Homo sapiens: one gene and its partner. The protein of the gene in region 2 interacts with the protein of the main gene of each other region in a pairwise test. Each region holds a gene or a part of one and is shown on either strand. Other genes may lie near its edges.

Region 1 (7,024 bases), on a different chromosome or scaffold from region 2:
GCTCCCAATTAGTCTACCTAGAACTTACAGTTCAGTTTTCTGGGGGGATAGGAAGAGGGGATTACATTTAGCTACCTCTTCCTTCTTGGAATAGTTAAAAATACGTTCTCATATATAAAGCAGATCGAATCAGTAACTGTCTAAATGACAACACAAATTCGGTGTTAGCTATGACTAACATCTGACTGACTCCATCTCAGCAAAAAATAAAGGACAACAAAATCTCAGTTGTTACCCAACTAAGTGTTTAAAGTATACTAAGAAGTTAGTGCTCGTTGATAGGATTACCAAGCAAATGAATTTAAGGCATAACTGGAGTAACAGCAAATGAAGTATATACTTTTTCCCTCTGGTGCAATAAGGCCTCTGCCAAGAGAGATTACTTTAAGAGTTTTCCTGCCCCAAATTAACCAAAGGTCCCGTGTATTGAAGGAGGAATAAGCTAAAGGCTGAGGCTTTTAAACAGGTAACGACTGACTTTGAAACACTCAAGACTTTAGAGTTTGAGTCAAAATCATCATATATACTTATTAGATGCTGGAATCAATGAGGCCAAATTTGCCAGGGCTGCAACATGGATAAAATGTCAAGTACAGATGAAACATTATTTTGTTTATACATGTCTAAATTTTAACAGAACCCTTTAAAAATCAGGAACAAAATGCTATGTTCACACAAAAATCCTTGTGCTTAATTTGCAGGAAGATATCAGAACAGTTGAAAACAAATTGTTTCAGTCTTTAACTTCACTTGATGAAGCTGCTCAGCAACTGTGCTGTTAGTGGTGAAAACTGCAGAAACACAATTCCCTTCTTGGATTTCAGGGAAAAGCCATTCACTTGTCAGTCTCTGCAGAGACAGGGAGAGAATTCTCTGCCCCCAACTCCTCTGACAGTTCCCTTCCACTTAATGGGGTCACTGCCCAAGTGAACTCTCAGGAGGGGACATTTCCATATAAGGCCATTTAAGTGTAAATTGACACAGCAATCTATGTCAAACAAGCCACTGAGTTTCTTTTGGGTGGTGGGATAGGGAAAAGGGCTTTTGTGTCAATTAATTAAAACTTACAGAACAGTCAAAAAAATTGATTTCTCAAAGTTCAATTAAAAAAAAAAACTAGCTCATCTCTTATTTTCAAGGAGATGAATTATGGAAAATTCCTTCAAATTTATGCCACAGGCCTAGTTTTGGACCTTAGGAAGGAATCTCCTCCCATTTTCTCTTCACATTTTAGTTTCTTCAAGTTGCTATTATAAATTGTTTGAATAGCAAAATCAGCCATGACCCGAATCATGGAGATATGTGGATTTCCTTGCATTGAAATACATCTATACAATTGAAAGTTATGCATACAGCACAAAACTATAAACAAAAAGGTGAAGCAAACTTTCTTTATTTTCAGGTAAAAACATTAACCTGATGGATTATTGCAGATTTGAGAAATCAGCACATAAAATGACTGGACAGCATTGCTTACAGGTGCTTTTATCTGCGTCGAGACAAAGGCTGAACTGTTTTGTCCCAAGTCAGCACTGGGAGAAGGGGAAGAGGAGCGTGGAATAAAGAAGACTATGAACAAAAACGTAAAACAACAAAGGGAAAAAAATTTTTTTACTCCAACAGGGAAGGAAAACTGCTTATTTTGTTTAAAAAATTTACATTAATTTAAAATCCTCTGGCCACAGAATAATAAATACCGGCCAGCCCAAGCTGTAGACTTCTTAACCTTCATAAAAGAAACAAATGAGCTTTCCTTGTCTCATTCCAGAGGCTGTTGCTGCTGGAATTGCCATGTAAACAGTCCTTAGTGTGTCACCTGGGAAAAAGCCAGTAATACCCTAAACTATATTAAAACTAAACTATAAGAAAAGTCTACCTAGTTACAAAAGCTGAATTATATTCAATAAATTTCAATCCAATGAATTTTAAATTAGATCTTAACTGGAGAGAACATGGGACAACAGAAGCCCATGGGTAACGAAAATTTGAGAACTGTGAGTTGTATACAAAAAAAAAACTGTGAGCTGCACAGATAATAATGAATCAGGGAGAGAAAATCAGAGGAAAGTGAAAAGCACATAGAGCTAGTCTACTAAACTATATTTGTCAAATACATGTGAGCTTAAATTTCTGTACTTATGTACAAGAGTTGTCTTTGGAGGAAAGAAAACTGCAGACTTAGCTAGATGGATACACACAGCCCAGAATTAAACTGCACAGCCACATTTATTGTTCCAGCCTGGAAAAACATCCCTTTTTTAAATTTCACACAGCAAAGCATGTTAAAAACTTCACTCATCAAATAAATGATAATTTAAACAAGAACTTGCTAAAGAAACCTCATCACAACAACGTTTTAGGGCCTGATCACTTTAAGTCCATGGGGCCATTAATGAATATCAACCAAATGTCTCTTTATAATCTGCAAGCCGTTTTTCCTACAACAAGAAGGCGTAACATGTTTCCTTGACTCAGGTGATAACATTAGAAAAGAAATCATGATTTGTTTCTTTTGCTGTAACAGGCAGACACTGCATTTCTTGCTATGATCAGGAAAGATGGAACGACTGCTGCCCTTCTCTTGCTGCTATCAACAGTTTTTCACGCATTATCTCAATGCTTGAATAGTCCGGCAACTTAAGATAGTTCACACAAGTCATTACAGAGGGCAAGAAGTCATCTGGGTTTTCTGTTGATTCAAACGTCTTTCGGACAATTGTCAAAGGTGGATTCAAACTCCGGAATCCTGATTAAGAGAAAAAGAAAGACAAGGAACTTAAGTTTTTAAAAAACATCAGCTATCAGAAAACATTCCACTGCTTTGCCGTACAATATTACACACAAGATATTCTTTCTTGCTTGGCAATTGCACATTCAATATACATTAAGTGCAAGGAACCTGCTTTAATTTATCATTTAAAAACTCGCTGTATAACATGGAGGCAACAGTTCTTTATGTCTTCTGATTTTTAAAATGGAATACCCACAGTGGTTCACGCCCGTAATCCCAGCACTCTGGGAGGCCGAGGTGAGCCAGTCGCTTGAGAGTTTCAGACCAGCCTGGGAAACATGGAGAAACCCTATCTCTACAAAAATACAAAAATTAGCCAGACATGGTGCTGTGTTGTGCCTGTAGTCCCAGCTACACAGGAGGCTGAAGCAGGAGGATCTCGCCTGAGCCCAGGAGGCAGAGGTTGCAGTGAGCCAAGATCACGCCACTGCACTTCAGCCTGGGTGACAAGAGTGAGATCCTGTCTCAAAAAACAAAACAAAAACAACAGAATACCAATTTAACTTACATTAGGATTCAATCTGAAAAACCAGATTTTAGAATCCATTCTCATCTAAGTCAACTAAGAGTTTAGAATGTACAAATGGCCTGGAATTTTATCTAACCAGCATTACATGTGCATTAGTAATCCTACTTCAATATGTTTAAGACAATCCCCATGGATTTCCCTGCTAGTGGTCTCAATGTACTATAATGATACTGGAATAACTAAGAGGCACTGCAAGTGAGATAAAGAATCTCCTGCTGATGGTACTGAAGTTTCACACTCACAAACCCACCCATAGGTAGAATAAATGCTAAACATCAACATCGTACCCACCTCCAACAGGCAATCTTGGGCTACCAGTCACAAACTGGAGAAATAACCTCTGCTGCTCATTATCAAAACTACTGAGAATCTCAAACAAAAACTTCACAGCCCGACTATAACAGAAATAAATATACCAAAATTATTTCATCAGGTTAAAATAGAGTTTTAATCACACTGCATCGCATCACATGACATAAAAATTAGATTAGCACTTTTAAATTACACATACATTTTCCATTACAATGTACTTAAATTCGTTTCTGTTATGACTAGACTAGAATTCAAATGGAATGATTACAGTTGTAATAAGTAAGACTTGATCTGGTACTGTACAGATATTTCTGCTTTACTATATGTAATAATGGGGAACAAGATTAAATCTGTCTTCCCCAACCCCTAGTATTTTCACAGAAATACTTGAGAAAGAAACCCTTGGGTCTTAATTTCCCATCTTCAGAGAAATAAGGCCAAAACAGAAGTAAGCATCCATTAACAGGTAGACACATTTTAAAATGAACCACTCCAACTTTTGTTGTTTACACATGTGCGCATGTGTGTGTACACACACACCCCTCTCCACATTCTTCAGAATCAACAGAAAAACTGGCAGACCCCAGTACTTACCTGTCATGAGTATAACCATGATCAGGCCTACAGCATTCCATCAGTGTCTTTGCATCCCAAGTGTCTGCTTTACTGCCACAAAGGAGCTGATCCAGCTGTGAGTTTAAATAAGGGTAAAAAGAATTACTAAGGAAACATTTGTTTACGTGAGTGAAAATAAAGGTCTACGTGTACCATAAAAGAGTATCAGTCTCAGTACTAAAACCTTCTGCTTGGGACCTCTTTCCAAAAAAAAAAAAATAATAATAAAATAAAATAAAATTTAGAGATTCCATTTCCTTTTTAGCTGTACGCTATTAAGTACCCTGCCCATCTGCAGGGACTTGGTTCCTGAGAAACCCTTCCTCTCAAACCAAAAACACCTGATGACCCTTGATTTCAGTTTTCCTTTCTTCTCATTACTTTAGGTGCTTTAAATGGATAATCTGCTTCTAGTCAGGGAGATTTTATAAATCCTGGCTTTCAGAAACACAAAGGTATACAGTAACAGATGCCAAGGGAGAGAACATTGAGCTGGAGAAAGAAGTGGGAGAAGCAAGCTGAACTAGGACACAGCAAATGGGTAGGTCTTTACACTTTGTAGAGAGGCATGTCTACGCTACATGGTTGGTTGTATGGGGACCAACCCAGATATTATAGAATGAATATTAGAAAGCAATAAATGCTTTCATGTCCTTATACTTTGAGAAAATCCAATTTGAGGCCAATGAAATTTAATATCTATTATATAATGCTCACTGTCTGGTCCTATATATTTAAAGACAAAGCTTTGCTCTGTTGCCCAGGCTGGAGTGTAGTGGCCTAATCACAGCTCACTCCCGTCATGATCTCCTGGGCTCAAGTGATCCTCCAACCTCAGCCTTCCAAGTAGCTGAGACTACAGGTGCATACCACCACGCCCAGCTAATTATTTTTTTTATTTTAGACAAGGTCTCACTATGTTGCCCAGCCTAATCTTAAATTTCCGAGCTCAAGTGATCTTCCCACCTCCATCTCCCAAAGTGCTGGGATTATAGGCTAAGTCACTGTGCCCAGCCTATTTAATTTCCATTACTCTGTGATAGGGGTTATTCCAATTTTACAGATGAAACAGTCCTATCAGATACAGTAACTTGGATAAGGTTATACAGCAAGTGGTGAGGACCATGATTCTATTCCAGGTGACAAGCAGTGCCTACAAGTATCAGGCACACTACATGCTTAAGTAGACACAAATATAACTGAGATTAAGACGTTAAGTTAATCAAAAATTTATAGATTTAATCAGTAGTGAACATACACTCTAAAACTAGTATTCAAACAATAAATAAAAAGGTTTCAAAACTGAGGGAAACTGGACACATTCTAGAGGCTTTCTGTATCTCACTACCAGTGAGTAGTTCTTTTGAGATTTGGCACTTGAAATTAAAGACGGTAATATGGTTTGGCTGTGCCCCTACCCCAAATCTCATCTTGAACTGTAACTCCCACAATTCCCACCTGCTGTGGGAATGACCTGGTGGGAGGTAACTGAATCATGGGGGCAGGTCTTTCCCAGGCTATTCTCATAATAGTGAATATGTCTCACGAGATCTGATGGTTTCAAAAAGGGGAGTTTCCCCGCACAAGCTCTCGTCTTGTCTGCTGCCATGTGAGATGTGCCTTTCACCTTCCACCATGATTGTGAGGCCTCCCCAGCCACGTGGAACTCTAAGTCTAATAAACCTCTTTCTTTTGTAAATTGCCCAGTCTCGGTTATGTCTTTATCAGCAGCATGAAAACAGACTAATACAGGCGGCTAGAGAAAACCAAGCACATAAATCCATTTCTTCCATTCTCAGAAGTATTCTCTGTATTTGGCAATTAGATAATTTATAATACTTTCTTAAAACTTCAAGGACTAACTTTGATTGTGAAACAATGTCTCATCGAAACGAAGTTTAGTTAAGGAATAAAGTCAAGCCCCCTCCATGTCTCTCTTTGCTTCCACAGCAGTACAGAAACATGTAGAACATGCCACACACAGCACAAGTCCCCATTCTCCACTGAATGGCATTGAGGGTCTTGGCTGACAAAGATGCTATGCTTACTGTCACGCGTGGAACCCGCTCCCCAATCTAAGAGGGGACACCTATTTAACATTCTTCCTTGCTCAGGCAATTTCCTTGTCTTTCCCAAACATCCATCCCCTGCTATCTAACACCCATTTTTTTGTTTTTGTGCAACAATACGGTCTTTGACTAGGCAGCACAGAAACACTCCACTAAAATTATAGGTATGACCATTTCTTTTAGATATAAGCTACTCACTTCCTCCGGGTAGAAGTACTGAAGATGACTGAGTGGGAAGACTGATTCAAATCCATCTCTGAACGAATCAAATTGCCTAGAAACGCCTTCATTTAGTGCCCAGAATATAACCAGCTGCAAAAAGAAAGTTTTCAAAAAACTGTGACAAGATTTCAAATCTCTTTACTATTTAATATGTGGCAAAGTACAGTGAAACACCCTTCTGGATCACTTTATAAAGAACAAACAAGTTATTAAGACTTTAAAATAATCTGCTAGAAAACTACATGAGTAAAACATCAGGTCAACATCTAATGTGGGGCCCCTACCAATAACAAAATGTAAAAAAAAAATGCCATGTGCATTTACATTTAGTGTGTTTTAAAAATCTATTTATGTGAAACCCATGCCATACAGTTATATTACCTCACTGGATGGGAATCAAATGAGAATTTCCCAAGAGGATAAAATGTTATTGAGAATTAAAGGTAATGTTTGAAGAATCACAATTAGCCACTATTAAGGGTTTTT
Region 2 (7,585 bases):
TCTCCTGCTCCTTCCCCGCTCTACCCCCAATCCTGCACCAGCCCCTCAGTGTGTGAATGAGGCAATAGCCAGACTCCCGTGATTTAGAGCGCGCTCCAGAGCCTCCTCTGCCCACTCCTCCTTACCCCGCTGGGGTGCCTGCAACTTAATAATAGCCTCCTTACCTGTAGTTTACAAAACCCTTTCCCAGACCCCCCGCCCCTAGGCCCTCTCTCTGCAGGTGGCCCCTGATATCCCTGTTAGAGACACAGGCTTAGTGAGGACAAGGACCTCACCCAGGCCCACAGTGAAAGGCAGAGCCGGCTGGAATGCAGAGGCAAGGCTCTGTGCTGTGTAGACTATGCCTTATCCTTAGACGAGGAGTGTCTTGGTGGAATCTCAGGCACTGTAGCGGGCAGGGTGGCCGGGGTCAGGGGGCACTTGTCCCTGAAATCCACTTGGGAGCTCCCCGCCCTCCACAGTTCAGCTCTTTGCCTGGGAGAATAGAGGAGCAAGGTGCAGCAGCCTCAGCCCTGGGCCGAGGGTCTGTCATGAGCCTGCGGGGGCGCGGTGGCAGTGGCTCACCCTGGACACAGACCCTAGGAGCCGGTGGTCTCCAGCAGCGTCCCTCCAGCTGGGGCTCAGTCATTGCCTTTCCTACTCAGGAGACTGTTTTCTGGGCAGCTCTTCTGTAGGTTTCCTTATCAGTCACCTGCATGGGAGCCCTAACTCACAGGCTGGACAGAAGAGGCCCAGTGCCCTCCGGGTGTGAACCCTCGCACACATGCGTTCTCACAGGCTCTCCTCCGCAGGGCTGCACCGGCCCCCACAGCACCTTTTTGCCAGCTAGGGAAAGACGTCTCTCCTCCAGGCAACATGCAGCCTCACCAGAGTGCACGGTGTAGCAGAGTGGGGTGTGATCTCTCTCCCAGGTGCCTTTGTGCAGTGAGCAACCTACACAAACATGCTCAGTGAACCTAGAAAGTCCCTACAGATCTGCCTGGAAGGGGGCTCAGAGAAGGGAAGTGATGCATCTGAGAGGACTCAGTGTGTGGGGACTGAAGCTGGGAGGGCCCCTGGGATGTCTGTCAGCCTGCCTCAGAGTGGACACGAGTGGGGGCATGCAAAGGAGTGGAGCAGGACAAATGGGTGCCTGCCATGGATCGGCGGGGAGGACCCACGGTCTCCATCTTGCCCTGCCACCCACTTGAGGTTCCCTGAATTCCCACACTGTTCCAGGCTCCCAGAGGGGTCAGACTTGGACTCACCTGCATGGGAAAGGCCCTTTCTTCTCCTCTGAGCCTCAGTATTCTCCTGCGGATAATGGGATTATAATAGCCCCCACCCCAGCCTCAAGAGGGCTCTACCAGCTCATGATGATGATGATGATGACTGTTCAGTCCAGCGGGACAGCAGCCAAAGCACTGCCTCTCCTCACCCCACCCCTACCTAGCCTCAGGTGATGTCCAGGCTTTCCTGGCAGGGGCAGAGCAGAACCACCCGCCCACCTGCCTGCCCCAAGTCCCAGGATCCTGAGCTTGGGCTGCAGCTGCCCAACTCTGATTTTCCTCCCTGTATCCACAAGGCAAAAGCCAGAGCAGCCAGGGACCAGACAGGGTGGCCTAGGAGAGGGCACAGCCGCAGCACTCTGTGCATGCATGCACGCATTCTGGCAGAAGATCCCGGCTCTGCCTCTCACCAGCTGTGTGACCTTGGGCAAGTCACACGACCTCTCTCAGTCTCATAATTGCTCCCTTGCATGTGAAGTGTTAAGCCTGGGCTGAGTGTGCACTGTATCCCCATTTGAAGATGAGAAAACTGAGTCCCCAGGGCTGCAGAGCTTGTTAAATGTTAAATGTCAAAGCTCATGCTCTTTGGATCACGCCCAGGCCCCACAGTGGGACCCCATGGGCGCTCAGGCCACCCAGGTGGCAAGCGATTGGGTCTCCTGGGGTGGTTGTGGGACCTGGGCCCCTCCCCTTAGTGATCTGAAGCTCACTCTCCCCAGCCTAGAATGGGGCTGGTTCCTCATTCCTGGAGCCTGGACCAGCTGTAGGGAGGGCTGCACGTGGGCCTGGAAGTTGTGTGGGGAATGTGGGCTGGACTGGGCATCCTGGAGAAGCCATTTCCCCTCTCTGCCGACCCTCTCCAGTGGTAGACAGGGATGGGTCTGCACAGACTGCCCTGTATATAGTTGCAGAAAGGGTCCAACAGCTGTCATCTCTGTCCCTGACATGTGTGGGCCCCTCAGTATTCTCCCCCAGGCCAGGAGGCTCTCAAGGACAGCCAGGGCTCAATATGTGTCCAGTTGCGAGACAGGCAGGGAGAAGGGCTGACTGGGGACTGTGAGAGGGAGGAGTTAGAGCCATAGGCTGCCCTGCCTAGGAGAGGGAAACCAGCCCCATTCTAGGCTGGGGAGAGTGAGCTTCAGATCACAAAGGGGAGGGGCCCAGGTCCCACAGCCAGAGCTAGGATTGAAACCCACTGGTGGGACACACTCCAGGAGAGGGGGTGAATCTCTGGTTGTGCTTCTGTGGGTGAATTGTGGCTGAGACCCAGGTCTCCTGGGGTATGCTTCTGTGGTTGGGTGGGTACACTTGGGTGTGAGTATGTATGTCTTGGGGAGATTATAGCTTCAACTCCGGGTGTGAAGTTGACCTGGGTGGGTGTTGATAAGCAGAGCAGATTTCTTTTCCTTTCTTTTCTCTTCTTTTTTCTTTCTTTTTTTTTTTTTTTAAAGAGATAGGGGGGCCAGGTGCAGTGGCTCACACCTGTAATCCTAGCACTTTGGGAGGCCAAGGTGACCAGATCATGAGGTCAGGAGATTGCGACCATCCTGGCCAACATCATGAAACCCCGTCTCCACTAAAAATACAAAAATTAGCTGGGTGGGCTGGGCGCGGTAGCTCATGCCTGTAATCCTAATACTTTGGGAGGCTGAGGCGGGCAGATCACCTGAGGTCGGGAGTTCGAGACTAGCCTGACCAACATGGAGAAACCCTGTCTCTACTAAAAATACAAAATTAGCTGTCATGGTGGCGCATGCCTATAATCCCAGCTACTCCAGCCTGGGCAACAAGAGCGAAACTCCATCTCAAAAACAAAACAAAACAAAACAAAACAAAAGTAGCTGGGCATGGTGGCTCGCACCTGTAGTCCCAGCTACTTGGGAGGCTGAGGCAGGAGAATCACTGGACCCGGGGAGGCGGAGGTTGCAGTGAGCCAAGATTGTGCCACTGCACTCCAGCCTGGTGACAGAGTAAGACTCTGTCTTAAAAAAAAAAAAAAAAAAAAAAGGGATAGGGTCAAAAAAAAAAAAAAAAAAAAGAGAGAGAGATAGGGTCTCGGCTGGGTACAGTGGCTTACACCTGTATTCTCAGGACATTGGGAGGCCGAAGCAGGAGGAGCACCTGAGGTCAGGAGTTCAAGACAAGCCTGGCCAACACGGCGAAACCCTGTCTCTACTAAACACACAAAAATTAGCCAGGCGTGGTGGCGTGTGCCTGTAATCCCAGCCACTCAGGAGGCTGAGGCAGGAGAATCACTTGAACCTGGGAGGTAGAGGTTGCAGTGAGCTGAGATCACACCACTGCACTCCAGCCTGGGCCGACACACTGAAACTCTGTCTCAAAAAAAAAAAAAAAAAAAAAAAAAGCGGAGCGAGCGAGAGAGATAGGCTCTCACTGTATTGCCCAGGCTGGAGTGCAGTGGCACAACCAGGACTCACTGCAGTCTCGACCCCCGGGGCTCATGTGATCTTCCCACCTCAGCCTCCCAAGTAGCTGGGATTACAGGCCCACACCACCTCAACCAGCTAGTTTAAATTTTTTTTTTTTATAGAGACAGGGTCTTGCTATGTTGCCCAGGCTGGTCACAAACTCCTGGGTTCAAGCAATTCTCCTGCCTCAGGCTCCCAAAGTGCTGGGATTATAGGCAGCCACCGCACCAGGAGAGGCTGGATCTTATAGACATCCTGGCCCCTGTGTGCAAGTCCACTGGGTCCAGAAGTGAGGAGGGGGCTGCACAGATGTGTGGAGACCCTGGCCCAGGAGGGCCTCTCTGGGAGAACGTGCAATAGGGCAAAGCGCTGGCAGCTGGGACAGAAAGCTGCAGGGCTGGGACCTCCGGCCTCCATCCAAAGGTAGGGCTCAGGGCTGTGTGCTCCAGGCTGCTCTCCCGGGCACCCCACCCCTAAGGGCGGGCCCTAGTACCAGTCTCTGCCTGCTCCGGCTCTCCCCGCCCCTCCTTTCCATCTCTTCTCCATGGTGGGCCTCCCTCTTTCTTCATGGCAGCCCTACGTCTGTGACCCTCGACGACAGTCCCTGTCCATCTGTACCTGGCCCTCTGTCGGGACTTCCTCTGTGTCTCTGAAGACCCCCGTCTCTCCCTGCCTGCTCCGTGCCCTCCTCCTGCTGGGTCCGTGTCCCGCCACACGCCCCCAGGTCTGGGACGTTTTCGTGGCTGACGGGCGGGGGGGGGGGGGGGCGCGTCCCCGGCGGGTCCCTATCGGTCCCTGTCGGTCCGTCCGCCCCGCGCCGCCCCCGCTGGGCACTGGGCATGCCCCAGGCGTTTCTATATAAAGCGGCGCCGCTTGGGCCGGGCGCTGTGCCACTGCCACCGCCGCCGCCGCTGCATCCCGCCCGGTCCGAGTCCGCCCGCCACGCCCGCCGAGCCGCTGCCGCCGCCAGGTACCCCAGCTCCGGCCCCGCCCCGGGGAGAGCCAGGGAGGGGGGCGGCCGGGGCAGGAGTCGCGGGGACGAGGACCCCGGGCGCCCGCTCCCCGCGGCGGGACCCTCGACGCTACGCCCCCCACCCCCGGGACCCGGTGCCCCCAACTCCCCCCCGCGCTGGAGGGGCAGAGCCAAGCCCGGACCCCAGGGCAGGAAGGACCTGTGAGCCGCACTGGGGCAGGAGCCACTCGGTCTGGGCAGCAGAAATCCCTCCCTACCTTCGGGGTGGGGGTGGGGCTGCCTTGGCCTCTCTCTGCAGGGACAGGTGTCGGCCACCTCTCCACTCCCAAAGTCTAGGGGCTGGAAGGCCAGGCAGGGACTTGGCTGCCCTGACTCCTTCGTCTCTCTGTCCCTCTGTCTCTGCCATCAGTCTCTCAGCCACTCCACCCACGAGATGGTGAGTCTTCTGTGGTCCCTCCCCCACAAGGCCCAAGTCCCTGGGCAGAGAGTGGGCCCAGAGGACAGCAGGCAGCACCTAGGACCTAAGCCTGGGAGTTGCCCCCTGCAGACAGCTTAGACCCACGACCAGCTCCCCCACCCCCACCCTGCGGCTGCATCCTGGGAGGTGGGCACTCTTAGTGCCCTGTGACATTCATTCATTCCATGGCCCCTCAGGGAGCTCACCTTCTAGGAGACGGCACAGAGGCTCTGGCCCTGGCAAACTGGGATTCGAGCCCAGGCATGAGGCCCAGTCCTCTGCCGTCTGGGCCACAGCACACCATCTCCCAACAACCAAGAGATTCTCTTCGTCCCAGCCTCATCAGCCCCCAGGGGATGGGAGAGGGCAGGCACCAGGCAACAAGGTCCAAAGAGACCTCACGACTTGCTCAAGGTGGCCGAGCCTGTCCCCTGGAGGACAGACTCAGCTGCCAGGCCTGTCCAGGCCTGGGGACTGCAAAGAACAAGAATTCCATTCACACGAAGCCTCCCAGCAGCCCCATATTGGGGGGGCGCCAGCCTCAGAGAGGGGAGGGACGTTAGGTTTCATCCAAAGAAAGCATTTCCGTGACTCAAAATATCTGCAGGGGGGATACTGTCTAGCCTCCTAATGTTTAGCCCAGGGCTGGGCACACAGTAGGGCTTCAAGACCTACGTGGGGATGACAGTGGAATCACATTTAGGTGTCAGCACACTCCATGCCGGGTCATGAGACAGAAATAAGCCACCTCAGAGTGATGGCTGGGTTCGTTCATTCATCTACTCTTCAGTCAACAAACACTTACTGAGAAGTGGCTGTGTGCCAGGCACGCTTTAGGTGCTGGGGTTGCCTCCATGAACAAAACAAGCAGAAAACTCTGCTGCTGTGAAGCAAGCTAAGGCGGAGCCCAGCATGGCAGGGGCGGGAGGGGCTGGCTGGCAAGACATTGCTTCCTGCCCTCCCCCCAGGGGCACCACACAGAACAGTTTACAAAGCACTCCCACGGTTGCGTTCCCATTAACAAGCCTTCGCCCCCAACACAAGCCTTTCCTCTCCTAGTCCCCGGGACGGTGTCAGCCCTGAACATAGCCCAGGCTGGGAGAGTGGGGGGCTTACACCCTTGGGTGACTTAATGTGCCCACTGGCCCACCCTGCCCAAGACCTACCACTTCTGCCCTCTCAGCTCTCCCTGGATCCATCGGGTCCCGAGTGGGATTGCCCACTGGGCTCCAAGGACCTGGAGGAAGAGGGCCCCTGGGGAGGGGGCTCTGGCCTGCCGCCCACAGGCTGCTTCCCTGGCTCCTGGCGCCAGGACGTGGGCCTGGACTGCAAGGGATCCCCCGAGGGGGCCGAGGCCCGGGCTTGGACTGTCTACTACTACAGCCTCCTGCAGAGCTGTCTGCAGCAAGCTGGCCTTCCGGAGACTCAGGACCGCGGCCAGGTGCCCCGCACAGGTGCCCAAGGGCTCCCTGGAGGGAGGCACCTCTGGGGGCAGGGAGGGGCCCTCAGCCCAGTCTGCTTGCTCATCCCTGTCAAGGTCGGCCCCTTCCCCTAGGCTCTGGTTCCATCTGAAGGCAGGGAAGGCACAGCCAGTTGGCCTAGGGTAGGCGGACATTGTTTGCAAGGGCATCTGGCACCAGTGAGGTCAAGGATTGGGCTCCCTGCCCTCACCCCCTCCCCAAAAAGACCCAGCCCTGGGATTGGGAAACCACGTTGTGTGGCACCGAAGCTTCTAGAGAAAGGTCTTGGGAGCTGTGGTGGAGGCAGCTCAGCAGCTGAGACCCCCCAGACTCCTCCCCTTCTGCCCCTCCACGCCTGTTACATATATCAGACTTTGTGTGGACAGAGGGTTCACAGGCAGAATACCTGAGAATCACAGACTTGGTCCCATTGTACAAACTTGGAAACTGAGGCTTGGAGGAACACTGACTCCTCCAAGGTTACACAGAAAGTCAGAGCTCGGGCTAGAACTCAGGTCTCCAGTCACCTAGCCCACAGCACCTCTGGAACAGCTGCAGAAAGGGGAAACCAGCTTCACGGGGCAGGACTGGCGGGCACCTCCATTCCCTGCCTGTCCCCTGTCTCATCCGATTCCTGGGAAAACTCTGGGGGCTCAGGGTGGGGCCGTGGGTGTGGAGGTGGTGGAAGGTGGGCAGAGAGACAGCAAGGGCGCCCCTGGTGAGCTGGGCCATGTTCTCTTTCCCGAGGCTGTCCTGGGGCGGAGGTGACCTTGTGCGTTCTGGGCTCCCCCAGCACCTTTCTGCCTGTGCTGCTGGAGGGTGGGGTCCAGAGCCCGGGTGAGTGTATGCTCAAGTTTCCCCATCCCCTTCTACAGAAAGGGCAGCCCTGCCCTGGCCCAGCCACATCCCAAAATACCCGCCAACCCTGGCAACTGCCTGCATTCCACCGGAGCAGCTGCCATGCTGAATGGGGATGGGTTCTGGGATCAGCTGCTTCC

What was found. The genes of interacting proteins can lie anywhere in the genome.
Region 1: the proteins of CARNS1 (region 2) and TRIP12 interact in a two-hybrid assay, tested with the Homo sapiens proteins (one study listed by BioGRID and IntAct).

Annotation. Positions count from the first base shown.
Region 1 is NC_000002.12:229,765,005-229,772,028, forward strand, and holds part of TRIP12 (E3 ubiquitin-protein ligase TRIP12), read right to left. Parts: intron 6,629-7,024; coding exon 6,515-6,628; intron 4,322-6,514; coding exon 4,227-4,321; intron 3,716-4,226; coding exon 3,612-3,715; intron 2,747-3,611; coding exon 2,550-2,746; 3' UTR 1-2,549. UniProt on the Homo sapiens protein: E3 ubiquitin-protein ligase involved in ubiquitin fusion degradation (UFD) pathway and regulation of DNA repair.
Region 2 is NC_000011.10:67,411,097-67,418,681, forward strand, and holds the start of CARNS1 (carnosine synthase 1), read left to right. Parts: upstream 1-4,581; 5' UTR 4,582-4,667; intron 4,668-5,079; 5' UTR 5,080-5,103; coding exon 5,104-5,106; intron 5,107-6,310; coding exon 6,311-6,581; intron 6,582-7,334; coding exon 7,335-7,424; intron 7,425-7,585. UniProt on the Homo sapiens protein: Catalyzes the synthesis of carnosine and homocarnosine. Carnosine is synthesized more efficiently than homocarnosine.